5 linked regions of the Homo sapiens genome follow. The protein of the gene in region 3 purifies or fractionates together with the protein of the main gene of each other region. This does not show direct contact. Each region holds a gene or a part of one and is shown on either strand. Other genes may lie near its edges. The genes, in order: ISY1, GPATCH1, CCDC12, AQR and YJU2B.

Evidence for each region.
Region 1: the proteins of CCDC12 (region 3) and ISY1 purify together in Homo sapiens (affinity purification with mass spectrometry; one large-scale study listed by BioGRID). This does not show direct contact.
Region 2: the proteins of CCDC12 (region 3) and GPATCH1 purify together in Homo sapiens (affinity purification with mass spectrometry; one large-scale study listed by BioGRID and IntAct). This does not show direct contact.
Region 4: the proteins of CCDC12 (region 3) and AQR purify together in Homo sapiens (affinity purification with mass spectrometry; one large-scale study listed by BioGRID and IntAct). This does not show direct contact.
Region 5: the proteins of CCDC12 (region 3) and YJU2B purify together in Homo sapiens (co-immunoprecipitation; one large-scale study listed by IntAct). This does not show direct contact.

The regions. Positions count from the first base shown.
Region 1 is NC_000003.12:129,153,541-129,159,598, forward strand, and holds part of ISY1 (pre-mRNA-splicing factor ISY1 homolog), read right to left. Parts: intron 5,637-6,058; coding exon 5,614-5,636; intron 5,020-5,613; coding exon 4,968-5,019; intron 3,381-4,967; coding exon 3,315-3,380; intron 3,136-3,314; coding exon 3,093-3,135; intron 1-3,092. Other genes in the region: ISY1-RAB43 protein, read right to left, coding at 3,093-3,135, 3,315-3,380, 4,968-5,019, 5,614-5,636. UniProt on the Homo sapiens protein: Component of the spliceosome C complex required for the selective processing of microRNAs during embryonic stem cell differentiation. Required for the biogenesis of all miRNAs from the pri-miR-17-92 primary transcript except miR-92a.
Region 2 is NC_000019.10:33,093,572-33,099,629, reverse strand, and holds part of GPATCH1 (G patch domain-containing protein 1), read right to left. Parts: intron 5,459-6,058; coding exon 5,361-5,458; intron 3,869-5,360; coding exon 3,810-3,868; intron 3,424-3,809; coding exon 3,184-3,423; intron 1,876-3,183; coding exon 1,728-1,875; intron 1-1,727.
Region 3 is NC_000003.12:46,964,976-46,971,033, reverse strand, and holds part of CCDC12 (coiled-coil domain-containing protein 12), read left to right. Parts: intron 1-6,058.
Region 4 is NC_000015.10:34,871,309-34,877,366, forward strand, and holds part of AQR (RNA helicase aquarius), read right to left. Parts: intron 4,699-6,058; coding exon 4,627-4,698; intron 3,557-4,626; coding exon 3,369-3,556; intron 2,692-3,368; coding exon 2,520-2,691; intron 1-2,519.
Region 5 is NC_000019.10:13,752,935-13,758,992, forward strand, and holds part of YJU2B (probable splicing factor YJU2B), read left to right. Parts: intron 1-1,354; coding exon 1,355-1,408; intron 1,409-3,262; coding exon 3,263-3,345; intron 3,346-4,483; coding exon 4,484-4,539; intron 4,540-4,851; coding exon 4,852-4,912; intron 4,913-5,933; coding exon 5,934-6,058. UniProt on the Homo sapiens protein: May be involved in mRNA splicing.

The sequences.
Region 1 (6,058 bases), about 82 Mb from region 3:
CGGGAGGGTGAGGTGGGCAGGTCATGAGGTCAGGAGATCGAGACCATCCTGGCTAACATGGTGAAACCCCGTCTCTACTAAAAATACAAAAAAAAATTAGCTGGGCATGGTGGTGGGCGCCTGTAGGCCCAGCTACTCAGGAGGCTGAGGCAGGAGATTCGCTTGAACCCGGGAGGCAGAGGCTGCGGTGAGCCAAGATCATGCCACTGCACTCCAGTGTGGGCAACAGAGCAAGACTCTGTCTCAAAACAAAACAAAACAAAACAAAATGAACTATTTCTCGGCCAGGCACTGTGGCTTACACCTGTAATCCTAGCACTTTGGAAGGCCGAGGAGGGTGGATCCCCTGAGGTCAGGAATTGAAGACCAGCCTGTTCAACATGGTGAAACCCTGTCTCTACTAAAAAATTACAAAAATTTGGCTGGGCGCCATGGCTCACGCCTGTAATCCCAGCACTTTGGGAGGCCGAGGCGGGCGGATCACGAGGTCAGGAGATCGAGACCATCCTGGCTAACACGGTGAAACCCCATCTCTACTAAAAATACAAAAGATCAGCCAGGCGAGGGGGTGGGCGCCTGTAGTCCCAGCTACGCGGGAGGCTGAGGCAGGAGAATGGCGTGAACCCCGGGGGGCGGAGCCTGCAGTGAGCTGAGATGGCGCCACTGCACTCCAGCCTGGGTGACAGAGCGAGACTCTGTCTCAAAAAAAAAAAAAAAAAAAAAAATTAGCCAGGTATGATGGAGGGTGCCTGTAATCCCAGCTACTCGGGAGGCTGAGGCAGGAGAAATTGCTTGAACCCAGGGAGGTGAACCCAGGGAGAAATTGCTTGAACCCAGTGCAGTGAGCCGAGAACTCGCCACTGCACTCTAGCCTGGGTGACAGAGCAAGACTCCATCTCAAAAAAAAAAAAAAAAAAAAAAAAGGACCACTTCTCTTAAGTGAGCTTTGGCAGTTTGTGTCTTGTAAGGAATTGACCTATTTCATCTAAGTTGTCAAATTTATGGGCATAACATTGTCTGTAATATTTCCTTATTATCCTTTTAATGTATATAGATTCTATAGTAATATTCCCAATTTGGTTCCTAATATTCTTAATTTGTGTATATTTTTTCTTGGTCAGTCTGACTAGAAGTTTATCAATTTTATTGATCTTTTTTTTTTTTTTGAGACAGAGTCTCGCTCTGTCTCCCAGGCTGGAGTGCAGTGGCGCGATCTCAGCTCACTGCAAGCTCCACCTCTTGGGTTCATGCCATTCTCCTGCCTCAGCCTCCCAAGTAGCTGGGATTACAGGCGCCTGCCACCACATCCAGCTAATTTTTTGTATTTTTAGTAAAGACGGGGTTTCACCGTGTTAGCCAGGATGGTCTCGATCTCCTGACCTCGTCATCCGCCCGCCTCGGCCTCCCAAAGTGCTGGGATTACAGGCGTGAGCCACCACGCCCAGCAATTTTATTGATCTTTTCAAAGAACCAGCTGTTGGTCTGTTTTCTCTATTCATCTTGTTTTCAATGCTATTGATTTCTTATCTTTACTATTTCCTTCCTTCTGCTTGCTTTGGGTTTAATTTGCTCTTCTTTTCTAATTTCACAGGGTAGAAGCTTAGATCACTGATTTGAAAACTTTCATAATTTTCTATTATTTCAGTGCTATATATGTATTTTTTGTTTGTTTGTTTGTTTGTTTGTTTTGAGATGGAGTCCTGGAGTGCAGTGGCACGATCTTGGCTCACTACAACCTCCGCCTCCCGGGTTCAAGCGATTCTCCTGCTTCAGCCTCCTGAGTAGCTGGGATTACAGGCACATGACACCACACCCAGCTAATATTTGTATTTTTAGTAGAGACAGGGTTTCACCATGTTGGCCAGGATAGTCTCTTATCTCCTAACCTCGTGATCCACCCGCCTCGGCCTCCCAAAGTGCTGGGATTACAGGTGTGAGCCACCGCACCAGGCCAGTGCTATACATTTTTATCTAAGCACTATATCCCATAAATTTTTTCATCCCCTAAATTTTGACATTACGTTTTCACTCTAATTAAATTCAAAATATCTTCTAATTTCTTTGCTGTTTCCTCTCAGACACATGAATTATTTACAAATATGTTGTTTAATTTCCAAATATTTAGGAATTTTTCAGATATGAATCTGTTGTTATAATCAGAGAAAATACTCTGTGTAATTTCAATTTTTTTTTTTTTTGAGATGGAGTTTCACTCTTGTTGCTGAAGCTGGAATGCAATAGTGTGATCTTGGCTCACTGTAACCTCCGCCCGTTAGGTTCAAGCGATTCTCCTGCCTCAGCCTCCCAAGTAGCTGGGATTACAAGCATGCGCTACCACGTCCAGCCAATTTTGTATTTTCAGTAGAGGTGGGGTTTCTCCATGTTGGTCAGGCTGGTCTCAAACCCCAGACCTTAGGTGATCCTCCCTCCTCGGCCTCCCAAAGTGCTGGGATTACAGGCGTGAGCTACTGCGCCCGGCCTCAAATATTTTAAATTTGCTAACATTTGTTCTGCAGCCCAGAATATGTTTTATTTTGGTGAATGTTCCACGTGCTCTTAAAAAAGACCATGTATTAGGCCGGGCATAGTGGCTCATACCTATAATCCCAGCACTTTGGGAGGCTGAGGCGGGCGAATTGCAAGGTCAGGAGATCAAGACCATCCTGGCTAACATGGTGAAACCCTGTCTCTACTGAAAGTACAAAAAAATTAGCCGGGCGTGGTTGTGGGCACCTGTAGTCCCAGCTATTCGGGAGGCTGAGGCAGGAGAATGGCGTGAACCCAGGAGGCTGAGCTTGCAGTGAGCCGAGATCGCACCACTGCACTCCAGCCTGGGTGACAGAGTGAGACTCTGTCTCAAAAAAAAAAAAAAAAAATGACGTATTCTTTATTGTTAGGTACAGTGTTGTGAGACAGAGTATTCTACAACTTTCAACTACATCAAACTGACTGATCGTATTGATTGGCTCTTCTATGTCCTTACTGATTTACTATCTACTTGCTCTATTGATTATTTTGAAAGGAGTATTGAAGTCCTCAAGTCTAATTGTGGATTTGAGAATCAAGCACTTTAAAGGAACAAGTTTGCTTACCATTCTGAATCTGAGCCACTTTTTTAGAGATCTCTCCAATGATCTATTAAAAAAAAGTAATACATTTTAATAATTTTTGAATATGTTAGAAAGCACAGAAAAACTATAATTCAAAATTAGTATTTAAAAATACTTAGACTTTTGGTCTAACAGTCATTTAGATAATAAGAAGAAATGAGAGACTTGTTACTTCTACTGAAATCAGATTTACCCAGAACATACCTGTCGTCTCCACTTCTCAGCTTTAGGCAGTTCAGTACATTCTGAGGCCAGAAAGGGTCTTCGTTCCTAAGGAGAAAAAAATAACACATTTCCATTATACTATTTACAAGTTTCAAACAACATTCAGAACTGATTCAGGCCTTAAGCCTAAATCATCTAATGGCCTAAAAACATTTGAAGTTTTCATTCCAGATGATCCTCATCAAGCCTTAAACCTCATTCTACAATCTCTCCTTAGGAAAAACATTGATTGCATTGTATTTAATATTGGAAAGAACTTAACTGTCCTGCAATAGAGAGACAGCCAAACTAGGTTATAGCTATTTCATGGCATATTTATAGTACCTTAAGAAACAATGTCTATCAGTGTTTAAAACAAACATACATAAATATGGGTGTATTCATATACATGTGCGTATATAAAATTAAAAAAAAAATCCAAAGAATGGTATATATTATCTCTAATTTGGGTGAGTCTCTAAGAAATGAAATAATTTACCGGTTTCAGCTTACAGCTGTTCTCCACATCATACTCCAGTCCCTATTCAATATTAGAGCTGGAGTAATAAAGGACCCAGTCATCAGGCTGGGCACGGCGGTTCATCTCTGTAATTCCCACTTTGGGAGGTCAAGGCAGGCAGATTGCCTGAGGCCTGGAGTTTGAGACCAGTCTGGCCAACATGGTGAAACCCCATCTCTACTAAAAATACAAAAAAATTAGCTGGGTGTGGTGATATGTGCCTGTAATTCCAGCTACTCAGGAGGCTGAGGCAGGGGAATTGCTTGAACCAGGGAGTTGGAGGTTACAGTGAGCCAAGATCACGCCACTGCACTCCAGCCTGAGCGACAGAGCGTCCATCTCAAAAAAAAAAAAAAAAAAAAAAGGGCCGGGCCCAGTCATCATAATACAGAAGAAACTGAAAAACAAGCAGCCAGATCCATCACCCTGCCTCAGCTATGGGGAGGTATTGGAATTCAAGTGTACAGACTCTCAAGAGCGTCAGCAGGTACAGATAAGAAATAGGAAATTCTGAAGTTTGAAGTCTGTTGACCTGGAGTGCAGCAGCGCGCTCTCGGTGCACTGCAACCTCCGTCTCCAGGGCTCAAGTGATTCTTCTGCCTCAGCCTCAAGTAGCTGGGATTACAGGTGCCTGCCACCATGCCCAGCTAATTTTTGTATTTTTAGTAGAGATGGGGTTTCACCATGTTAGCCAGGCTGGCCTCAAACTCCTGTCCTCAAGTGATCCACCCCCCTCAGCCTCTCAAAGTGCTGGGATTACAGGCGTGAGTCACTGCACCCTACTTTTTTTTTTTTTTTTGACAGGTTCTCACTGTGTCACCCAGGCTGGAGTGCAGTGGCATGATCATGGCTCCCTGCAGTGTAAGACTCCTGCATTCAAGTGATTCTCCTGCCTCAGCCTCCCCAGTAGCTGGGACTACAGGCAGGCGCCACCATGCCTGGCTAGGCTAATCTTTGTATTTTTTGTAAAGAAGGGATTTTGCCATGTTGCCCAGACTGGTCTCAAACTCCTAGACTCAAGTGATCCACCCACCTCAGCCTCCCCAAGTATTGGGATTACAGGCATGAGCCACTGCACCCAGCCTGCATTTATTCTTGATACTTTACAATTCATGAGGAAGATTTACACCAACCTTCACTTTTCCCTCTTCCAGCTGAGCCTGGCGAAATCTTGCTAAGGCCGTCCTACCAGCGATATAAAAGATAAAAGACTCCATTAGATCCTGCTCATACAGACTTCTCATTACCCATGTTCCTGTATGGGGTAGATCTGCTTATGACCATATTTAATGTCATTCATATACAAATATTGTAATTAAGAAACCACAGAATAGTTAGGGATTTCCATGTTCTCAGGAGTAGGAATTATGAGGCAATTTGTATTCCTGAACACCCAAGAATCTATTTTACTTACACTACACATAAGGACTGTGGGAAACTCTACTTATCAGACCACTGTGATAAGCAATACATCCAGGTGTTAAAAGACTAACATCATGGTGTGTTCCCTGGCTGTCACTCTCACAACCCCTGCACCAACCACAGGTGAACAAATGTTCATCCAGTGTTTAAGTTCTGGAAACTGTGAGAAAACACATAAATGGAGAAAACAAATGGGCAAAAACAGGAATGTTTTTGCATATGTAAGAACATAACATATGTAAAGAAAGAAACAGCTTCTCAAAAGGCTCAGATACCAAAAAGAGGAAATACACAAAGAGTTACATGGTGGTTTTTAAGTTACAAAAAATTTACAGCCAAAAACAAGTTGATACTTACATGGCCTTTTCTGCATTTCGGGCCTGGAAAGAGAGAAAAGAGAAGAAAAATGTCCATGTTTAAAATATATTTTTTTCTTGCCCTTTACTTTTTAGTGAAAAGTTTTACAAGAATACAATCACAAGCAAACCACTTGAAGTACTATATGAACAACAATAAACAAAAATCAAAAGATGTCCAAATCCTGTGACCAAGGCTGCTCCTCCCTCTACTTAAAATCTTTACTCCTCCACTGACCCTAACACCTTGTATCTGGCTAACTTGCATTATTCTTCCTTCAAATTTTACTTGTGTCATGACCACCCAGAACATTATTCTGTGACCCCTTCTTCCCAGTTAGGCTGGTGTCCTCTATCAAGGATTATACTTACCATGGCATTTAACACCCAGCATCACAATTGCCTGTTCCCTGCCAGTGGTATTTGGGGAAAATAAGTCTGAAGAC
Region 2 (6,058 bases), on a different chromosome or scaffold from region 3:
GAGACTCTGTCTCAAAAAAAAAAAATTTAAAAATGTAAAAAATCAACCGTGGAGACTAGGTAAAATAAAGATAGATTCACCGAATAGAAAATCATACAGTCAAAACTACAGATGCTGTGACCCTGCAGGGGGGGAGAGAGGAAGCTGGGGGAGAGAGGCCACAGCAGAGAGGGACAAGGACAGGCTCGGAGCTCAGTGGAAGGAGTGAGAACCAATCAGCTGGGGGCAAAGCTGGTGCACGAGGGAAAAGTGAAAGATGTGGTTCAGCAGGCGGACTTAAATATATGTCATTACATATCATTAATTATTAAAGGATTGATATATTGTTATTAATATGTTGTATATTAAATATCATTTATATTAACAGATATAGGATATTATCAATTTCATACTCCCACCACTTTTAATAAATAATGAATAATTAAAATAGATCAATACATTACTATGTAATAATGTATTGGTATGTTACATAATATACCAATAGTATTGATATATTAATTATATAAAATATAAATCATATACAATATATAATGGTATATTGATTATAATATAGTATTAAAATTAAATAGTATATTATGATATATTAATATATCTTCATTTAAGTTATATAAAAATAATCCATAGTTTGGGGACAGAAATCAGAAACTATAGGGAGGCAAAAGGAAGAAGGCTCAGAAGCTAAATGACTCAGGGGAAAAAAAAAGAAAAACATTGGAAGGAAAAAAAAAAGGAAGTAAGTACTAGCAGCCCACTGACCACCCGGAGGTTAAGTCTCCTAACACTGGGTACACATGCCCTTCCAGTGTCCTGTGTAAAACCCTGGGTTCCCTGTCATACCATCCCAGTCAAGTGACACATGACTGTATGATAACCAAAGAATAGTAGGTGCCACTTCTTCAGTCTTTGGGACAGGTGCTTTGCCAGACACTGAGTTATGCCACTTAATCCTCACAACCACCTCTGGAGTGGATTTTATCCTCACTTTACAAATGTGGACTCCAATGCCCAGAGAGGTTATGAGCCTTGCCTAAGGTCACAAAGCTGGGCAATGGAGAGCTGGCATCCAAACCCAGGTCTGACTGACTCCAAATCACATGCTGCTAATACCGACTCTACACTGTCTGGCCCTGCACCTTTTCTGGAAACAACTGAAATGTGACTTCAAACCACAGGATCTGATTCACCTTGAAATTTCAACACAGCATGAAGTTAAAGTTGTGTTGAGAGATGTCAGCCTCTTATCCCAACAAGAGCCTCCTCAGAGCCAGGGACTCAAGGGAGAAGACGGACTGGGCGCCCAGCTCCATCTTGCTGCAGGCTGTTGGTGTACCTGCCTCCTGGTCCCCTGGCTTGACCTTCTGACCTGCTGCATGTGTTGGCCTCCTTTGGCCACCTGCCCAGTTCCTCGAGCTCTGGGTGCTTCCCTTTGACCCACTGCCAGCTCTGACCAGCCATGTGGTCACTGGTCCAGGCATTCCTCTTTCCCTGATTACAGACCTCTCCCTCCCTCCCACCTGGGCCCCACCTTGACAGCTGGCTTTGGCCTTGGCCAGGTCTGAATCCTGCATTTGTTTCACTTCCCATGCTGGGCCTCGCTTCTTTGTTTTGTTTCTTACCGTGACTTTGACCAACAACAGAGGCTGGTGCTCCTGTATCGCTCTTGCAGCCCCTCCTTCCTGATACCCTGACACTTGGTCCTGCCATTAGGTTTGTGGCTGTCGAATTACCTTTCTGGTTTTTATACTGCCTGGGTGCTGTCCAGCCATAGAGTCCGTCTCCAGGCTCCTCGTCCTTCAGAACAGTGTCATACTTGGATAGAGTTTCTGTGGCATAGATATCATCATCTTCCTCTTCCAGGGCACCTACACCAAAAGCCTTTAAAAAAACAAGGTTTCAAACTGAGCACAGGTGTTAGGGTATGTCTGGGATCTTCAGGGATAAAGCTACTTTAAGGATGTGATTGGAAACCATGTTAGCACTTCAAGATCACCAAGAGAGAAGTGAACGGGGGTCCCAGATCGACCAACACACACACAAGTTTTCTGGAAAACAGTGACCAGAGGTGAATGCCATGTCCCTACTGCCAACACTGCCCTCCAGTCCCCACAACAGCCATGGCTCCAGGTCCCAGCACAGGAAGAGGAGTGGAGAACAAAGCCAAGCAGCAGTGCAGGGGTGGAAATGTGGCTTCCAAGAGGAGAAAGGAAGAAATGTTCATCAACTGATCAATGCGGCCTGGGCCAACGCTGGTGGCTGGGGTCTAAGGGCCGCTGCTACTCTACTGCCCGCTGGAAGAACTCCTACTCTCTGCGGAAAGGAGCCTCTAACAAGTAGCATTTTTGTTTAAAAGACTGAAAAAAAAACACGTTTATAAAAAGAAAAGGTGGGCCGGGCGCAGTGGCTCACGCCTGTAATCCCAGCACTTTGGGAGGCCGAGGCGGGTGGATCACCTGAGGTCAGGAGTTCAAGACCAGCCTGACCAACATGGAGAAACCCCATCTCTACTAAAAATACAAAATTAGCCGGGGTGGTGGCGCATGCCTGTAATCTCAGCTAGTCAGGTGGCTGAGGCAGGAGAATCGCTTCAACCCGGGAGGTGGAGGTTGCGGTGAGCCGAGATCGCGCCATTGCACTCCAGCCTGGGCAACAAGAGTCAAACTCTGTCTCAAAAAAAAAAGAAAGAAAGAAAGAAAGAAAAGGTGGCCAGGCGCAGTGGCTCATGCCTGTAATCCTAGCACTTTGGGAGGCCGAGGCAGGTGGATCATCTGAAGTCAGGAGTTCGAGACCAGCCTGGCCAACATGGTGAAACCCCGTCTCTACTAAAAATACAAAAATTAGTGGGGCATGGTGGCACATGCCTATAATCCCAGCTATTCAGGAGGCTGAGGCAGGAGAATCACTTGAACCCAGGAGACAGAGGTTGCAGTAAGCCAAGATCGCACCACTGCACTCCAGCCTGGGTAACAGAGCGAAACCCCGTCTCAAAAAAAAACAGAAATGGTAATAATGAAATGGCAAAGTCACCATTTTAAAAATGCATTTTAAGAAAGAATCTTTGACCTGATTCCACTTGAGGATTAGGGGGAAAAAAAAAGAAAATAAAGAACCTCTAAAAAGAAGAAAGAAAGAAAGTAGACTCATTTATCAATGACTCCCCCTTTATAAAATAGAAAATAATTTTACCTGGCCTGAAATTCCCAATTTTCTTCCTTTATTCAGTCCAATTTCTCCAAGATCGCCAGCTCTCTCAGAACCACCACTGAAAAGATTAAAATGTTCTCCCGAAGTTCCAAACAGTGCCTGGTGGGGATCCAGGCCCTTGTAAGCTAGACCATGCACATTATCTTTAGGTGTGAAATCCACAGGTGTGACATCTTTGGGTGCAAAGGTCACATTATCAGGCAAGTAGTCATCATCTTCACCCTATTTCCGTTTAAAGTGGAATTAAGGTGAGTCACTGAAGGATGCAAAGTAAACCCACAAAATACTAATTGAAAACGCAGTGATTAATGCCACACAGAACAATTAGCAAACTTTCATTGGTGCTGTTATAAATGACTAAATCACTTTCTGGCACAAAGGATGCTAACACCAACTCCATTTTATGAAGCTGAACAGACCTGGGTATCTGTGGTGCTGGCATGTTGCTGAATATGTATGCTGATATAATGAGGATAGCTTTAGGGTATGAGTATTTAACTGTATAGTTATTGGATCTGATTTCTAAAATTGTCTCCAACCAAATTTCACAGTCATACAGAAACAGGTGCTGTTGTACCAAAGTGAAGGTCAGTCACACCATGCAATACCTCAGATCCTTCCGAGCTTCCAGGGGGTAATGCACAGCCATAGATTTTGACTCCAGGATCTAGAAAAGAGATTTCAAATGCAATAGTCATGAGTGACTACAAATAGAAAACCCCGACCAGGCCGGGCGCGGTGGATCACACCTGTAATCCCAGCACTCTGGGAGGCTGAGGTGAGAGGATCGCTTGAGCCCAGGAGTTCAAGACCAGCCTGGGTAACATAGTGAGATTCCGCCTCCACAAAAAATTTAAAAAAAAAAAGGCTGGGCGCAGCGGCTCATGCCTGTAATCCCAGTACTTTGGGAGGCTGAGGCGGGGTGGATCACAAGGTCGGGAGTTGGAGACCAGCCTGACCAACATGGAGAAACCCCGTCTCTACAAAAAATACAAAAAAAATAGCCAGGCATGGTGGCGCAAGCCTGTAATCCCAGCTACTCAGGAGGCTGAGGCAGGAGAATCGCTTGAACCGGGAAGCAGAGGTTGCAGTGAGCCGAGATCGCGCATTGTACTTCAGCCTGGGCAACAAGAGCGAAACTCCATCTCAAAAAAAAAAAAAAAAAAAAAAACCTCACTGATAACTCTTCAGAGGTACATGGGTACATTTATAAAATGTGCTACAGCATTACGGTGAGAGGAAGATAACTGGGAATTGTTTTAGAAACAGGGTCTCGCCCTGTCACCCAGGCTGAAGTACAGTGGCATGATCATAGCTCACTGTAGCCTCAACCTTCTGGACTAAAGCCATCCTCCCACCTCACTCTCCTGAGTCGTAGCTGGGACTACAGGTGCGCTCCACCACACCTGGCTAATTTTGGTATATTTGGTAGAGGCAGGGTTTCACCGTGTTGCCCAGGCTGGTCTCAAACACCTGGGCTCAAAGATAATCTCACCTCAGCATCCCAAAGTGCCAGGATTATGGGTATGAGTCACTGCACCCAGCCAGGAATCATTTTCTACCAGCACCTGCCCTACCTAGCAGTAATGTGCTCAATGAGTAACCAATACTGCCCCACAGCATAAGGAACCCAAAAGAAATGACTGTTACCCTCAAAGAGTCACTTACAGTCTGGCTGGGGAGACTCAGGGCAAGAAATAAGGAACAAGTAATAATGTTAAACTGTGACAGCTTGGGGGAGGGTAGGAAACATGAACTCTCACATGCTGCTGGCAGAAGCATAAACTAGCACAGCCTTTCTGGAAGCTGTCATGCATTACACATAAAAAGCCTTAGAAGACACACATACCACTGGGCCCAGCTATTTCGTTTATTGGAATTTGCTCAGGCAATCCTCAGCCTGGGCCTGGGCAACATGGCAAAACCCCGTCTCTACAAAAAATACAAAAAATTAGCCTGGCGCAGTGGCACATGCCTGTGGTCCCAGCTACTTGCGGGGCTAACGTGGAAGGATCACTTGAGCCCGGGAGGTCAAGGCTGCAGTATGCCGGGATCGCACCACTGCACTCCAGCCTGGGCGACAGAGCAAGACCCTGTCTCAAAAAAAAAAAAAAAGTACGCTGCAGCAGTGATAACAGTTAATCAATTAACATACACACCAGGTTTCTGTCGGCGTGGCCGTCTCTTTACTCGAGGACCAACTCCTTGTCCTTCTTTCCAACCCATTTTTCTTAGCAATTCGAAACCAACAGATAATCTAGGATAGCAAGGCATTGAAAATGAACTTTTCAAAATAACATTAACAAAGAATATGAAATAAGCGGCTTCTGAGTTCCTGCTCAGTTCCTAGGCCTGTCTTGCCTGGGCCCTTGCCCTCACCCACATTACATCTGGCGTGACCCTGCCATTCCAGCCACAGCAGGCTGCACTGGGGTGCACACCTGAACTGGGGAAGTCAATCAGATGACCTTTCTCCTGGGCCTTTACGATGGGATCACAGGGACTCTAGACAGTCTTTGCTAAGCATGTGGCCTGGGAATCCCTGAAGGTCTAAGGCTGCCATATCAGGCCACAAGCCCAGGAGCACAAGGAGATACACAGAAAGTGAGGGTAGAAGGAGGCAGACAGAGGCGAGGCTATAAGGTCTGGAGGGGTGGTGGGAGAAGTCACTGTAATTCCTAACAGCTCTCCAGCCTCTGAGAGCCCCAGCAGCACAGCTAGTGGCTGGAGTTCTTAATCTCTCCGTGCAATGACAGTGCAAGATCCTTTACGCAAAACCCCCTTTTTCACTTAGACTTTGAGCCTAAGAAGGCTTGTCTCACTTGCAATCAAACTATCCCTCAGCAAGAGAATCACA
Region 3 (6,058 bases):
GGGGCAGGGGTACAGTCTGAAAGTGCTGGACTGGGGTACTCTGGTAGCCAAGTTTTGCAAGAGCCAGGGTTTCCAGCAGGGATGGTAGCCAGCCTGGGCACACTTTTCTGTATTGTATTTGAACCTCATTTCCTGATGCTCATCCAGAAGTTCCTGGCTGGGTGAGTAGGTGAACAGTTCAAGGCTGTGTGGATGAAACTCTGGCATCTCTTTACAGTGCTGTCCGGCAGGGCAGTGTGAGGCCACTCTGTCCTCCTTTGACCTCTTTCTTCTTCAGCAGCCAAATGGAGGCTCTCTAAAGGTGATGATTAACTTGGCATAAACATGCCAAGCTTTCCTGAGCGATTGCCCTGAATTGGGCTGTCTCTTGCTGCTCTGAGACAGGGAGACTGGCTGTCTGGCTGACCAGCCCTTGGGGCTGAGGTCTGGCTGTCAAGTTGCAGGTTCCAGGCAACCAGCAATTCCTGGTTGTCACCTGGCTCTAGAGATTAGAGCAGCAGTGTTGCTCACTAGAACTTTGTGCAGTGATAGTGTTCTTTAATCTGCACTGTCTAGTACTGTAGCCATGGGCCACCTGTGACTTTCAAGCCCTTGAAATGTGGCTACCGGCCAGGCACAGTGGCTCATGCCTGTTATCCAGGGGTGTCCAATCTTCTGGCTTCCCTGGGCCACAATGGAAGAAGAATTGTCTTGGGCCACACATAATATGCAGTAACACTAATGATAGCTGATGAGCTTTAAAAAAAAAATCACAAAAAATATCTCATAATGTTTTAGGAAAGTTTACGAATTTGTGTTGGGCTGCATTTGAAGTGGTCCTGGGCCTTGGTCTGCGGGTTGGACAAGCTTGTTATAATCCCAGCATTTTGGGAGGTGGAGGCAGGAAGATCACTTGAGTCCAGGAGTTTGAGACCAGCCTGGGCAATATGACAAATCCCCATCTCCACAAAAAATACAAAAAATTAACCTGGAATGGTGTCGTGCACTTATAGTTCCAGCTACTTGGGAGACTGAGCAGGGAGAATTGCTTCAGCCTGGTAGGGGCAGAGGTTGCAATGAGCTGAGATCACGTCACTGCACCCCAGCCCGGGCAACAGTGTGAGACCCTGTCTCAAAAAAAAAAAAAAAAAAAGAAATATGGCTACTGCGACATTTAATTTTAGTTAGTTTACATTTAAACAGCCACACTTGACTCGTGATTGCCTTATTCGACGGTGCATCTCTGGAGGACTTGCTCCCTTCAGCCTGACTTACAAGAAACTGTGTCTCTACCTGAGCTCCAGTTGTTGAGCGCTAAGGGGCAAGTGGAAACCCAGATGACCATCACATCAGCCTTGGGAGCCCAAAGCTGGGCAGAGGGCTTGGAAGTTGGCCATATTCATGGCTGGTATCTCCATCAGATGCTGATTTGGGGCCATCTGTGTATGTACCCTGTGGAGTTAAGTGCTGGTGATTCAGAGTGGTATAGTTGTGATTTACACACTCAAGAAATGGGAGTGCGGGCCAGGTGTGGTGTCTCACGCCTGTAATCCCAGTACTTTGGGAGGCCAAAGTGGGCAGATCGCTTGAGCTCAGGAGTTCAAGACCAGCATGGGCAACATAACAAGACACCATCTCTACAAATATAAGTAAACAAAATTAGCCGGGCATGGTGGCCCGCTCCTGCAGTCCCAGCTATTCGGGAGGCTGAGGTGGGAGGATTAAAAAACAAACAGAAAGAAAAAAATGCACAGTGCAGAGAGTGGGAGCAATGCCAAGGTAGAAGGCATGCACTAGTACTCTCTGACTTGGGAGTACTAGGGAGGGTCCCTGGCCAGGTTGGGGGAGGGTAAAAGAGGGAACCAGAGGGAGGGGCTAGCAAGTCTTGCTGGAGGAACAGAGGCAGTGGGTGAGAGGCCTAGTATGCTGGGTGAGGAGTCAGACTTGTCCGTGTCCTGATCATGTCTCAAGAAGTTGCCTCTATCTACATCCCATGTGGCCACATCCCCAGGCCCAGCAGCCTGGTTGCAAAGTCAGCCAAGGCGATCACTGCCGCCTGTATTGACAGCTTTTGGCAGGTTGGCAGTCATAACATTTGCGTGGCAGTTGTGGCAGAATCGTGTTCCATCCCTGAAGCAGGACTTTGAAGCAGGGTGTATTGCTTCATCCCTGTCTGATAGACCAGGAAACCCTGGGCTGAAGGAACATCCCACAGTCGTGCTTTGAGTTGTTGCTGACCCTAGATTGTCCCTTAGGCTCTGGCCTTCTATCCCTCTACACCTCTCACCCCCAGGTGCTTGGGAATAAGTACCTCCCGGGAAGGAGCCTCCACCCATCACACATATAAACTGTAACCAGGCTGCCAGGTGGAGGCCTAGTGGTGGAGTGGAGAGAATGGACTTTGGAGACAGATCTGATTTAAACCTCTGCTCCATTAATCGCATCTATGGTACTCAGAGCAAGCCTTGAAAAATCTGAGCCTCTCTCTTGTCTATAAAATCGAGATACAGCTTCTGAACTCATCAGTAGCTAGGAGAACAGAGAAAGATGCTGTCTATGAAGTGTCTAGCTCGAGATCTTGCACACAGGCCTTTTATAAACGTGGATGCCTGTCCTTTCTTCTTTACCCTCTTGTAAGTGGGGACATCCAGGTGGTCCTGCAGCCTTCTCCGCTGGGTGACAGTGGGTGGAACTGGCCCGGTTCCAGTGGAAGCAAAGAGGTCCTTCTCCTGCACCCTGGCTTTACTCATCCTAGCCCTAATTTTTTGAAGATGGAGTGTTAGTGCAAAGTGTTAGATTAAGAAGAAAATGGATTTGCAGTCACAGCCGAGGTGGAGTGTGAGTGCCCGTTCTTCCTAAGGACTCAGCTTTTCTGCCCAAGCTCTCAGACTCCAAGGTTGTGGAGGCAGTGAGAGGGAGAATCTTCTGGGTGGGAGATTTGGGGTTCCCAACACATACCTATGGTGAGCCAGCATTTCCTTCTGAGGCCCTCAATATGTTCACGTATGAAATGATGGTGTTGGATTTATCTGAGTTTCTCAGACCTACCTGTTCGTTGGGTTGTCTTGAGAGACAATTTGCAGTCCTTTTTTCTGGCCCTACCTCAGACCTATTGTGGTCTTGGTATATAGCCTATAAATTCATGCATTCTTAAAGTTCCCCAGGTGATTCTGATGAATTTTTCTGGACATCTCTGATCAGTCCCTGGCATTCTCTCATTGGAAGAAGGATACTTTTTTTTCCCTTGGAACCTTAGCTGCCCATGCTCACTGCAGGAACTCTGCAGCTAGCCACTAATAAGTATTTATTGAGTACCAGCTGTATGACAGGCCCTGGGGATACAGCTATGAACAAGACTTCCTCCTTGCCTCAAGGGGCTTCTATGGAAGGAGTGGGAATACTTAGAAACAAGGAACATGGTGTCCCTGTTTATGTGTCCCAGGAACTTGGGAATGTGGTGTGTGTGTTGGGGAGAGGCTGTGCAGCTGCCCAGGCTGGGAAGACCACCACCTGGGAGTTCTGAGACGGGGATGGAGGAGTGAGATGCCAAGATCTAGGGAAGAGCATTCCAAGCTGAGCAAGACTAGCTTGGCATGTTTGAGGAGTAGGAGTAGAGTGAACAGTGGGAGGTATGGAAGGGGGATGAGGGTGGAGAGGGCCTGGGAGGCTGGGCTAGTTAGAAGGGGGCCTTGCAGACCACCAAGGCTGGACCTCAGGCTAAGGGGGTTGGGGAACCACTGGAGGTCTGAGCAAAGCTGACATGCCCTTGGATGACTGTGTGTGGAGGTAGGAGGCAGCTGCAGGAGCCCAGGTGTGAGGCAGTGCGCACAGACAGGGTTCCTGAGATGGCAAAGTACAGGGGAGAGGGGCTTTGAAGGGGAAGGCAAGAGTCTGGCTTTGGCCACATTAAGCCAGAGATGACTGTTAGACAGGTAAGCGAAGAGAGACATAAGCAGGCATCTGGACTAGAAACAGATACAGGATATCAAGCCCTGGGGCTAGACGAGGCCCTCTGGTGACAGAGCTTAGACCACAGAGACAGAGGACTGGGAGATCATTCTGTGCCCTGAGGCTCGCTCTGCAGGTATTTAGCAGGAGTTAGAAGAATCCAAGGAAACTTGGTGGGGTGGGGCGGCATGAGGACAGTGGGGCTGAGAGAAGCCAGGCGAAGACTGGGGATGGGTTTTGGCAAGACAAGGTGATAGGTGAGCTTGGTCCAGCTGTTTCAGGGAAGTGTGTGGTGCCAGTGGAATCCAGGCCAGCTGGGTTGAGGTGCAGCATGCTGGCCAAAGCCTTCCTGTAAATTAAGCCTCCTTTCCACTGCTTGAAGTCCTCACTGGACCCCAGCCGGGACATCCATCCCTCCTCTCAGGAGGGTAGCGCCAGTCTGAGGCAGTGCCCTTATAGCCTTGCTGTCTGAACTCACCTGGTGTTTGGATGCTGGCAGCCTTCTTGCTAGTGCTCAGGTCTTCATATTGCCACTCTAGCAACTCTAGCCCTTTTCTTTCGTTCTTTCTTTCTTTCTTTCTTTTTTTTTTTGAGACAGAGTCTCACTCTGTCGCCCAGGCTGGGGTGCAGTGGCGCAGTCTCAGCTCACTGCAGCCTCTGCCCCGCCCCGTGCTCAAGCCGTTCTCCTGCCTCAGCCACCTGAGTAGCTGGGATTATAGGTGTGTGTCACCGCGCCCGGCTAATTTTTGTATTTTTAGTAGAGATGGGGTTTCGCCATGTTGTCCAGGCTGGTCTCAAACTCCTGGTCTCAAGTCGTCTCCCTGCTTTGGCCTCCCAAAGTGTTGGGATTATAGGCGTGAGCCACCGTGCCCAGCCCGCTTTCTTTCTTTCTTTCTTTTTTCAACCTGGGAGCACAGATTCAAGTTGCCGTAAATGTACACTCCCCCCTCCCCTGTCCTTTCTGTCCCTGCACGTAGGTCCTGAGGGCTGCACTGCAGCTCCTACAATATGACCACTGCTTCTGGGTCAGGCTGGCCGTTTCTCTCATGATTCCCTGCTCTCTGGACAGGTTGCTTTGCCCACCTGGCTCCGCCACCCTGCTCACCTTGGGATGTGTAGATAGGTAAGTCTCTTCACATCCTTTTTAGCTGGAAGATGGCCACAGTACCTCCTCCCTCCCAGGATAAGGGTTAAGTGAGATGGTGTGTGCAGAAGGGAGCTGAGAGGTGGGAAGTGTGATGTGTGCATTTATTCTTTCTCCTATACTCTTATTTTACCTCTGGTTGAGGGCCCCTTTAACTTGTACCTGAGACACCACAGATGTGGAGAAGTAAGGGACCAAACACAATCACACAGGGCCAATCCCTTGTCCTCTGGAGATGGAGCCAGAGGGATGGGCCAGGGAGCCCACCGCCTCCTGGCCAAGTTTGGGGGTGCTCTTCCTCTGGGATAGAATTGGTGCTGCCCTCATCCCTTGGAGCTTTGCAAGGAGGGGCTCTGCAGTGAGCTACAGGGAAGAGAATGGGACCCCGTTCAGTTTGGTCTGATATGCTGGGGAGAAACACCTGGCCTGGGCGAAGGGTGAGCCTCTCTCTGGATTTCCCTCAGAGGGCACGGTTTCCATCGAGGCAGATGGGTGGCTATTCAGGATCCTTCACGGTTTAGCTCACCTGTGGTGGCTGAAGCACCCTCCATGTAGCAGAAGAGGCACTAGACAGCCACAAGACAAGGTTCCTCTTTCTTGCTGTGCCAGTGACACAGTTGTTCCGCCACAGTCTCCCGTTTGGTTGACTTCTGTGGTATTACAAGGTGTAAGTTGTGTTCCCCAGGCCTCACTGATAGGGGGCAGGGAATTGGAAAGCAAAGGAATGTTGAAATTCAAGCTGGTTTTTAATCTTTCTGTTAGCTTTTGCAACAAAAGAATTTGCATGGTCTTGATGGTGAATCCCTCAGTTTTTTTCTCCTGTCTCCTGGAGCCAGGAGGGTGTGAATGGGATGTGCTTCCCTCTCAGTGTCCAAGTAGCTGTCTTCTGGGTGTGCTTGGGAGTCCTTAATCTTCTCTTTGGAGGACTTTTTCCTTATGGTCCTCTTGACTGAGTTAGTTCTCTCTAGATTTTAATTATTTTATTTT
Region 4 (6,058 bases), on a different chromosome or scaffold from region 3:
CCAGCCTGGACAACATGGTGAAACCCTGTCTCTACTAAAAATACAAAAATTAGCTGGGCATGGTGGTGCATGCCTATAGTCTCAGCTACTCTGGAGACTGAGGTGGGGGGATCGCTTAAGCTTGGGAGGCAGAGGTTGTGGCGAGCTTCAATCGTGCCTCTGCACTCCAGCCTGGTGACAAAGTGAGATCTCATCTCCAAAAAAAAAAAAAAAAAAAATTCTATACAATGTGCCACAACTGTAGTTACACAGACACAAAACTATAAAGGAACAAAGTAACTAAGAAGCCAATACAATACCCAGTTTAATAGCAAATACACCTAGCAGTATTATAATTGACTCAATTTTTGCACAGTGCTTTTCCTCCTTCCTCATGTTTCTTAATGTTTTTTGTATGCTTTGTTTCTGTTCTCTGCGTAATGGTTGTCACTTCTACTAGATCACTTTAGGTGGGATGAGGATGTGACCGCAAATTGGTCAGTCTGGTTTACTGTTAAATTACAGACTAGAAAGGAGCTTAAAACTAAGGCTTATTCAACTTAAAGGTGAGGAACCACACACAAAGCTCTTTGGTCCAGTTCAGTAGAGACTAAATCCAAAGTACTAGATGAAAGAAGAAAGTAAAATAAGAATATAAACACAATATTTAAAAAAAAAAAAAAAGGAAGCTGGATTTCATGCAAAGGCAACCGAAAGATTACTGGAAGACTTCTAAAAATATCATTTATATTCTGGTTCTTTGTGACGCACAGCTTGAGTTACAAGTTCATTTAAGTTTTCTAGTTCTTTAACACTGCCCAATTTGGTACTTTGCCCAAAGGTTAGACATGAAGCATTAACAATAAAACAACATGAACTGTATTGTGACCAAACATTTTAGAACTCGCTCCAAATGAGTCAAGTCCCCTTCAAATTAGTGACTTTTATTCATTTATCCACCTAGTCTTTCCCTCTCGACACTAATTCTTCAAATGTTATCACTTAAATGCATAGTATTCTTATTTTGGGGGACAGTGTTTTCAACTCTCCAGAAATATATTTAATAGTGGCAAATCATCATCTGAAAATATATTTATTTCTTGAATCGCTAAAAACTCATCTAGAGTTAGGCTTAATGAATAAGAAAAACAGGTAACCAATCTGGATAAAAATGTTTCAATCAATACTACAGTATGACTCAGGCAATGAAACTGACTCAAAGAAGAAATTCCAAAAAACCAATATGTAATGAAAACATCAGTTGATTACTGATAGAATAATTAATTTCTAAGGTGGCTATTAGGAAACATCACTGATTTGAACTAGGTTCTAATATTTTTAAAGTTATCATTTAAAGGTCACATCTGTTCTCAGGCATTAAGTACACAAATAGAGTAACTTGATTTAATATAACCAAATATTTGGAGGGACAATAAGATCTGCATGAGTTACATCTATGCATACACATTTAAGCTGATGATAAATGATGCTTTTTCATGAATAACTCAAGATCTCTAATTTGTATAACAACCTATATTGGATATTTTGCTGTAAAGAGAGAGAGAAAAAAAGAAAAAAATTAAAATAACCCCAAATGCTACCAACCAAAGACTATATTTTGATGTATATGCTGCCAGGTCATTTTGTATAGATTATCTGTATGTATTTCTATATGTATGTATTGCAGCTCCTTTTTAAAATGAGATACTGTAGATATACTTTGCAACTTTTTTCCACTTAATATAGCATAAACATTCTTCCTGTTAGTAAATACAATGTTATCATTCTTAGTGGCTATCTAGTATTTCTTTTATATGGAATATGTAATAATGCAATTAATCCCTACTGACAGATATTTGGGTTGTTTCTCATTTCCAGAATAATTTGCAGTGATGAACATGAAGCATACAAGTCTTTCCAAACTTGCCCAATTATTTTTTTAGGATAAATTCCTAGATGTGAGAACATTGCTTTTCATACATGCTGACAATTTGTCCACCAAATTATTTTCCTACTAGCATTGTATGAGAATAAAGTTTCCCCAAACCTATCCCAACACTGAGCATTGTTATAGAAGTGAAAATGTAATTCAGTGATTTATACTTGTTATAAAATATGAATTGCATATTCATATTTTCCTGTTAGTCTTGATTTTTTAAAACAATTTATGAGTTCTATAAATATATTCAGAATTCAACTTGTTTGTTAAATATTGAAATAAATTTTAAATACTGAAAATAAATCTTTTCTCCAATCGCTATTTTTCTTTATGATTTCTGCTTTTGTAACAAGCTTAGGAAGACCTTTCTCACTCCAACACTGTATATTCATTAATATTTTCTTCTAGTAGTTTCTAGTTTGTTTAGTTTCTTTAGTGCATGTATTTTTAATCAATCTGAAATCGATTTTTCATATGCTATGTGTAAGGTGGGGTTCCAACTTTCCTTTTCTCAACGGCCAAATGGTTAAGTATCACTGATTTAGGCATATGTCAGCCAGCAAATGCAAAATAAACTTATAAGCTTCCTATTTTTTCTTACCTGATAGAAGTAAGGATTAGGTTCAGATTCTCCCACTCCTTGAAAATCTTCAACATTAATGAGCTGGAAGTCATACAGTAAGCCAGCATTTGCTGTACTAAACTCTGGCAAGAGCTGCACATGGGGTAAGTTTCCTAGATTCTTGTATCGCCAGTTGTAGAGGTTGCACAAGCTTTCCAAAGACAAATTCCCCCACAAACAGAAAATATTAGCAGTGTAAAATCTCTTTTAATATACATAAGGAGGTTTCTGTTTCTGTGCTTCTTTTAAATTTTCATGTTAGCCATTTTGGCTCATCTTTTAAGCAATAATGCTCTTTCAACCTTAGCTTCCCTACTTCAAGTAACCAAGGGTCAGAAGACTGAAGGTACTACAAAAATGAGAGTTCTATTACGCTCTCTGAGGTCAATGCTATCTTTATCCCTTAAATTAAAAAATCAAGGAAGACTAAAAATTGAGGACATTTGGGGGTAACTATGAGATGGGGCCTGCATCCTTTATGAAGTAAGAATTGGTGTGTTCTCCTCTTGTTCACTTTATTTTTAGATTTTAAAATTATATTAACTGTATATCTTTTGGGGACATGAAGAAAGGAGAAGGGACAATGAAAAGAAGCCTTTAGATTATAAGTTACTTAAATTAATATTAATGAATGAAATGAAGGAAATAAATTATTTGGTCCATTCACATCTCTTGCAGAAGTCGACAAAAGTGCTTTTGGATTTATGGATAGCCAAGTTCCTGGATAGCCAAGAATGCTAATAGTCTACACAAAAGCTATTCACAAATACTTGGATCATGGAACAAATGTCCTTAAATGGGAATGATTTTTTTTCCTGTCTCTTTTACCTTGCTCTGGCTCTCCCTTGAGCATCAAGGTCAACAGTCGGAACTCCAACGCGAACAAAGCGAGTGAAGAGAGACTGCTCCATGTTTGAGTACTTTTGAAAGGCCATGTTCTTAATAACTGGAGGTAACTGGTGATGATCGCCAATCATAATCCATCGTTTTAGTCGGCTAAATCCATCCTGAGGATTCTAGAAATGAAAAGTAAGGAAATGGCAAAATACTCTATTATCCTCTTGTCTCCAATTTATTACCCGAGAGACTCAGTCTTCATCAAACAGCTTCCTTATCTTACAAATTACCAAACTTTACCAGCTCCACAAACAGGAGTCTAGCAAATTTACAGAACAATTTGTGAACCAATTATGGACGTTATTGCTCCTGGGTGACAGTGGGTGAGGGAGAATGGAGGTATTTAGAAGGCAAGCATGGAATTACCCTACTTTAATAGGCAGGGTAATCCAAAGAAGGCTGGAAGGATTAGGTCAGGCATTAGGTAACGAGCACACAGAAAGAAACAGAAGCCCAAGAAGAGAAATGGAAAGATGCGAAATAAACATGTTTCACAATTAGCTGAGGACCAATTCTGAACCCACCAAAGCAGTAAAAACTACCTTCTTTAATTATCTACACTACTACTTCAATTTCCTACTCTATATGTCTCCTAGTTCCTTGAAACATATCCTGATAGAATACATTCCAAGTTCCAAGTAGCTTCACTTATAAAAACAACTTCTGGAACTCAATTTATCTGCATATTAGAGTGGTCTCTATCCTTAAGTTGGGAATTCCACATTTTGTTTTTAATGCTTCAATAGTAAAGAATATTTTACAGTAAAAAAATTCTTAAATAGCACAATTTAGCTCAAAAACTTAGGCATAAAGAAAAGCAATGCACTCAGTGAAAATGAAAAAAATAATTCTACAAACAATTATAACAAAAGAAATGAAGAAACAGCTCATCTTCCCACCAAACTGCACAACAATGTAATTTTCTTGATTAAAATTACTAAATCTTTTCAAAACTACAGAAATAGACTATGAAATTTTAAATAGTACTTCTCGAAGCAAAACAACTACTAAATAGCCAGTGAATAGATTCAAGAAAGTTTACAGGCTTAAAATAGAATACCAAACATAATGAAGTTAAGGAAAATACATAACTATGGCAATCAGCACACCCAAACTGTACAACTTTCTGATGCTGTCCTCAGCATTCTTAGAACTCTATTTTCTTTGCCTCAGATCTTATATTTCTTACCTGTAGAAGAAGAGGGATAAAAGTTTCTATCTCCAGAATCTGAGCAGCCTCTTCCATCAAAATGTTGTCATACTAAGAAAGAGGAAATCTTGTCATAAAGACAGCTTAAAAGTCAAACAACTACCATCATAAACATAATCATCAAAAAAACCCCAAATAATTTCTGATAAAAACGACATACAAATTATTCAGACAGATAAAAATAACAACATACACATTATTCAAACAGAAACTTCATGGTCTTACTTATCATTATGCCTCTGCATTTCCAATTCAAGTATTTGACTTCAGGAAAGCCGCCTAAATATACAACTTTACATTGAAAAGATCTTGTATATCATTTCTTGAATTGCAATGCCAGTTTGGTTCTTTTCAATTTAGTTCTTTATTTCTACATCAGAAAGCATCAATTTATAATTATATATGAAGTCTTTCCCTTTGGTACTCTTACTCTGGTAGCATTTTGGGATAATTTTTTTTCCTATATGAATCCTACCCATCACAACAATTCACTTCAGTCTCACCCCTGGGCATTCAATCCATCACCAGAGCATGTCAATTTTACCTTCAAAACTCTTGAGTCTATTCATTTTTCTTTATTTCTACCAGCACTACCACTCTAAAAATCCAAGCCACCACTATGACTACGGATAGCAAACTCCTTACTAGTTCCTCCTCTTCCTGTCTTGACTCCTCTAAGGCACTTATACAACTCCTTATTTCAAATCCTTCACACCACTGTTTAAGTGAAAAAAATCCCTCAATATTGCCAGCAAGGATGTATTTACCAAGAACCTATATTCAATCTAGTCCCTGACTTCCTCTTGTACTTTATCTTTCTCCTTACTCACTAAGCTTCAACCACAATGACCCATTTCAGTTTGTTGGAAATGGCAAAACCTTCCCTGCCTCAGGCCCTTTGCACATGCTATTCTCTTCACTTTTAGTCTAGTTGGTTCTTTCTCATCCTTAAAATATCAGCTTAAAAGCCACTTTATCTAGGCCTTCTGTGACTTCCCAATCTAAAACTGATCTCAAAGTACTGAAGTACTGTTCTTTTGTCTTCCAGACCTACACAATTTGTAATTATATCTGTATATTTACTTGTTTAATGTATCTTTTCCGTAGCCCAGTTCCCAGTAATGTTAGGTATTACACATTTGTAAAAGAATGAAAAATCAAGTCTTTCTAAAACATGAGAAAATTTCATTCCTTCTTCGATAATTACTACTGTTCTATCTGTCCAATTCTCATTTAGATCTATTATCAATATGTTTTATCTTTCCTATTCACATCTAATTCTGATCGCTACTTAGTATGACATCTTGTTTTGGTACAATACCTTCTTCTTGAATCTAAGTACACATTAGAGTTCTGTTGCTTTCTGTTTTTAAAGATTTCTCCCATTATTTTATTTTCCAGGGAGGTGGGA
Region 5 (6,058 bases), on a different chromosome or scaffold from region 3:
AGAGCGACTCTTCAGCCAGGCTCAGTGTTCTTTCTTGAGACCTGTGTTCAACGGTACTACATGTGTATCTGCCCAGTGGCAATGTTAAATACTTCTTACCGTCAATCACAGTCTCCAAAAGAGTGTGAAAGCCACCATAGGAGCATCTGAACCTCATGGAATTTTCCAAAGCAATGACAATGGGTTTTTTGCCCAAGTAGCCCTTCCCCAATCAGACACTGAGCCCAGCACTGTCCTCTAAAATGTCCCCAAGTCCCCCTTATCCAGGTCCTGCCCCCTGAGGCTGCACAAGTAGGTTTCCTGGAGGGAGCCTGTGTATTAGTCCAGTCTCACGCTGCTCATAAAGACATACCCAAGGGCTGGGCGCGGTGGCTCACGCCTGTAATCCCAGCACTTTGGGAGGTCGAGGTAGGTGGGTCACAAGGTCAGGAGTTCAAGACCAGCCTGGCCAATATGGTGAAACTTTGTCTGTACTAAAAATACAAAAAAATTAGCTGGGCGTAGTGGCACATGCCTGTAATCCCAGCTACTCGGGAGGCTGAGGCAGGAGAATTGCTTGAATCCGGGAGGCGGAGGTTGCAGTGAGATGAGATCGCACCATTGCACTCCAGCCTGGGCAACAAGAGTGAAACTCTGTCTCAAAAAAAAAAAAAAAAAAAAAAAAGACATACTCAAGCCTGGGTAATTTATAAAGGAAAGAGGTTTAATTGACTCACAGTTCAGCATGGCTGGGGAGGCCTCAGGAAACTTAACAATCATGGCAGAAGGGGAAGCAAACACATCCTTCTTCACGTGGCAGCAGCAAGAATGAGCAAGAGGAAAAGCTCCTTGTAAAACCATGAGGTCTCTCGAGAACTCATTCGCTGTCATGAGAACAGCATGATTCGCCCCCATGATTCGATTCAGTTACCTCCCACCAGGTCCCTCCCATGACACGTGGGGATTATGGGAACTACAATTCAAGATGAGATTTCGCCTGTAATCCCAGCACTTTGGGAGGCTGAGGTGGGTGCATCACTTGATGTCAGGAGTTCAAGACCAGCCTGGCCAACATGGTGAAACCCCATCTCTACTAAAAATACAAAAAATTAGCTGGGCGTGGTGGTGCATGCCTGTAATCCTAGCTACTCAGGAGGCTGAGGCAGGAGAATCGCCTGAACTCGGGAAACGGAGGTTACAGTGAGTCAAGATCGCACCACTGCACTCCAGCATGGGTGACAGAGCAAGACTCCATCTCTAAAAATTAATAGTAAAATAAAAAATCAGAAAAAATTTTTTTGAATGAGATTTGGGTAGGGACACAGCCAAACCATATCAGCCTCTCTCTGAGTCATGTCTCTGTTCTGCTTTGCAGGGTGAAAGGAAAGGGGTCAACAAGTACTATCCTCCAGACTTCAACCCTGAGAAGGTAAGCAGGCTCTCCGCTCCAGGTCCACAGTAGCAAAAAGACCCACGTCATCCCCTCTTGGGGTTAGAGCCACTGCTGCGGAAGGATGGGTGGCCCCCAAGGTCTTTTTGTCTTCTGCATGTCACCTGAGTCTCGAGGCTGTCTTCACTTTTGGGTGATAACTGTGGCTCTCCTCAGGGACCTGTAACTCCATGTCCACACTATACTAGAGTATAGTGTGTTTACAGCAGGGGCCCAGGATAAGGCAGAGCGCACAGATGAAGGGTCAGATCCCATGGCTTCCCCAGCTCCAGCACCTGTGGCGTCCTGGTTGTCCCCTCTGCCTGGAATCTCTTCCTCCATTTCACCATACTCTCACTTCCTTAAGTGCTTTTCTCACAGAGGTCCTCCCTGACCACTGTCTCGTTCTCTGTTGCATTGCTGAGCACTTTATATAATCTCATAGCCCTTATAACTCCCTCACTTATTCATTTATTTGCGTCTTGTCCATCTCCCCCGCTAGAACATTCTCTCCCTGAAGGCAGAGATGTTCATCTATCTTATTGTGGCTGTGTCCCCACACAGTAGGTGCTCAGTAAGGGCCCAAGTGTCCCAGCTGCCTCGTCCTGAGTATAGGATTTAGCCTCTCTATGCCAAAGTTTCTCCATACGTCAGAAGGGGGAAATAAAATGAGCTGACCTCACAGAATCATTGAGGGATAAATCCTAGCTACTCAGGAGGCTGAGGTGGGAGGATTGCTTGAGCCCAGGAGGTGGAGACTGCAGTGAGTCATAATCATACCACTGCACCCCAGCCTGGGCTACAGAGCCAGACCCTGCCTCAAAAAAAAAAAAAAAAAAAGCCGGCGCCATGGCTCACGCCTCTAATCCCAGCACTTTGGGAGGCCAAGGCAGGTGGATCACCAGGTCGAGAGTTTAAGACCATCCTGGCCAACATGGTGAAACTTGATCTCTACTAAAAATACAAAAATTAGCTGGGCGTAGTGGCCCACACCTGTAGTCCCAGCTACTTGGGAGACTGAGACAGGAGAATCGCTTGAACCCGGAAGGCGGAGGTTGCAGTGAGCCGAGATCACGCCACTGCACTCCAGCCTAGTGACAGAGCGAGACTCTGTCTCAAAAAAAAAAAAAAAAAAATAAGGTGATGCACATGAAGTCCCCAGCGAATGTTTGCCAGTCTTGTCACCTCACCTCATCTTCCCCATAAAACCTGGAAGTAATAATGACCATTATACGTAGTTGACAGACAAGGGAAACAGAGGCTCGGGAAGGCAAAACGTGAGGTCACTCGCCCAGGGTCCCCTGGCTCTTTCAGCTCATAAATGGGAACAGGGCTGGGCGCAGTAGCTCACACCCGGAATCCCAGCACTTTGGGAGGCCGAGGCAAGTGGATCACCTGAGGTCAGGAGTTGGAGACCAGCCTGGGTGACATGGTGAAACCCCGTCTTTACTACAAATACAAAAAAAATAGCCGGGCGTGGTGGCAGGCGCCTGTAATCCCAGCTACTTAGGAGCCTGAGGCAGGAGAATCACTTGAACCCGGGAGGCAGAGGTTGCAGTGAGCCAAGGTCATGCCATTGCACTCCAGCCTGGGCAACAAGAGCAAAACTCCATCTCAAAAAATAAATAAATAAATAAGAGAGGGACTATTCAAACTCACGTTCCTGGTTCCAAGCCTACATGTTCCAGTAAGACCTGGATGCCCCCTATTGCTATGAACACCCGTCCTGCAGGACATAAGAATCAAGGCCTCTCCCACCTGTGAGACACTTGTCCCAAAGCAGTGGGGGTGGCAGAAAATTGTGAGCTCCTCCAGCTCAGCAGCACTAATCCGCTCCTCATCCTCTCCACACAGCATGGCTCTCTCAACCGATACCACAACAGCCACCCGCTTCGGGAGCGGGCTCGGAAGCTGTCACAGGGCATCCTCATCATCCGGTAAGGCCCAGCATCACCTGAGGACCCCACCGTCCTGCCCCATTCCTTCAGTCTCAAGGAGAGTTCAGTGCCCTCATTGGCCCAGTGCTGCAGGGTCTTCATTCCATAAAGCAGAAAGTCACCGTATCAGTCAGTTATTGCCGTGTGACAAAACAATAAGCATTTATTATTGCTCACATGTCTGCAGCTCAGCAAAATATCTCTGCTGGGCTTGGAAGAGCTTGGCTGGGCTGGGCTAGGCTGGCCTGATCTGGGCTGGGCTCCCATGTGTTTCAGAGTTGGCTGGCTGGGGACTGGCTGGTTTAGCAGGGACTTGACCTGTACAGCTGGGCTCTGCTCCGTGTTGTATCTCAACCTGTAGCAGGCCAGCCTGGACTTGATCACATAGGACTCTCAAAAAAGACAGTGATCGTAGTTGGGCACAGTGGGTCACGCCTGTAAACCCAGCACTTTGGGAGGGTGAGGCAGGTGGATCACTTGAGACCAAGAGTTCGAGAGCAGCCTGGCCAACACAGTGAAACCCTGTCTCTACTGAAAATAGAAAAAATTAGGCTGGGTGCGGTGGCTCACACCTGTAATCCCAGCTCCTCGGGAGGCTGAGGCAGGAGAATCACTTGAACTAGGGAGCTGGAGGTTGCAGTGAGCCAAGACCATGCCACTGTACTGCAGCCTGGCAACAGAGCGAGACTCCATCTCAAAAAAAAAAAAAAAATTCGCCGGAATTGGTGGCGCACACCTATAATCCCAGCTACTTGGGAGGCTGAGGCATAAGAATTGCTTGAACCCAGGAGGCAGAGGTTGCAGTGAGCCAGGATCGCACCACTGCACTCTAGCATGGGGAACAGAGCAAGACTCTGTCTCAAAAAAAAAAAGTCGCAGCAGCACCCAAAGGCGGCTGTCCCTGGACCTGGTCAGTCTGCTTTCTAGCAGGCAGGAAGTTCCTGCTCAGTTACAATGGTTGTGATTCTTTTTCTTCCATATATCCATTTCCTGTGTAATGTGAGTGCAGCAACTCCCGTTAACAGGGCAGTCTAATACCCCACCCCTCAAATCACAACCGCGGCCAGAGTCGCAGGTGTGGAGACCCAGGGAGTGTCCAAGTGGACAAGTGCAAGTAAGATGCTGTCTGTCTTTGCAGATTCGAAATGCCATATAACATCTGGTGCGATGGCTGCAAGAACCACATCGGCATGGGTGAGCCTCTGCCCACCCTCCATTCAGTCCTGCAAACATCAGACCCCCTAACTGCTGGATGCCGCCGGGGTGGGGGTGGGAGGGTCCTGATCAGGAATGAGGGAGGAGACGGGCACCCGAGTGACTGGCTGGCCATGGAAGCCCCTTTGCAGAGGGATTAGGAAGCCAGGCTCTGGCTTCCAATCCCGTCTCTAACTCCTCCTAGTTGGGGAACCCTCAGCAAGTGACAGTGAGCCTCTTTGTACCTCATTTTACCCATCTGCAAAATTCAGATGGCAATGAAATTACCACCCCCGCCTGACCCCCTTCCAGGTGTTCGTTACAATGCAGAAAAGAAGAAGGTGGGCAATTACTACACAACCCCGATCTACAGGTAAGGGCGGCTTGGTGGCATCTTGGGAACAGGTGGGGTGGCCACAGGGCGAGGGGGCTACAAAGAGCCTGAGTTGCGGGGGGAACCCATTCCCTGCAGGACTCCTGGAAATCGCCCTGGTTGGTGAATCAGGGCACACCCCACCCCCGCAACCCTCCATGGCTCCCACCTTCCTCAGTAAAAGCCCAAGTCCTCCCCCTGGCTCACAAGGCACCACACACTCTGCCTGTCCTTTCTTCACCCTAACCTCCTCCTGCTGTCCCCCTCCCTGGCCTCCTCGTTGTCCCTCACACACCCCAGGGACACACCCACCTCTGTGCTTCCACCTGGAATGCTCTTCCCCAGGTAGCTCCAAGGCTCCTCCCTCACCCGGGGTTTCTGCTCAAACAGCACCCCTCAGAGACACCTTTTCTAAAGTGAGACTTGACACTGGTTGCTTGTGCCCTTGCTATCAAGGTGGGCCCTGCTGGGACGTCAGCCTTTCCATGAGCAAGTTGGCTTTTCCACTACTCAGCAATTTCCCCAGCAGCTGGCACTGAGCCTGCCACAGAGCAGCCTGTCTTGGGCGGGTTTGTTGAATAAATGAACTAGTGGACAAATGAATGAACAAATGAATGAACAGAATGAACAAATGATAAGTGAATTAACAAATGGATGGATGAGCAAATGAATGTATGAATTACTTTAACAAATGAATCAGTGAACCAACAAACAAATGCACTAATGAATGAACAAATGAATTAACGAATAAATGAACCAAAAAAATGGATGAGGGAATGAATGAATGAACAAACAGCTGAATGAACAAATGAATAAGCCAACTGCAGCCCCACTGACAGAAGGTCCGTTCTGGGTGCCCGGATGTGCCCCTTTTTGCCCGTGGCTCTACACGGCACACAGTGGGTGCTCAGTGAATTTTTGTCAAATGACACCATTGGGTGGAAGGAAGCAGGCAGAGGCGACAGGGCTGTCCTGGTGCACAGCCACAGCCTCCTGACTCCTGCCCACCGCTCCCTCCCAGGTTCCGGATGAAATGCCACCTCTGTGTCAACTACATCGAGATGCAGACGGACCCCGCCAACTGCGACTACGTGATCGTGAGTGGCGCCCAGCGCAAGGAGGAGCGCTGGGACATGGCGGACAATG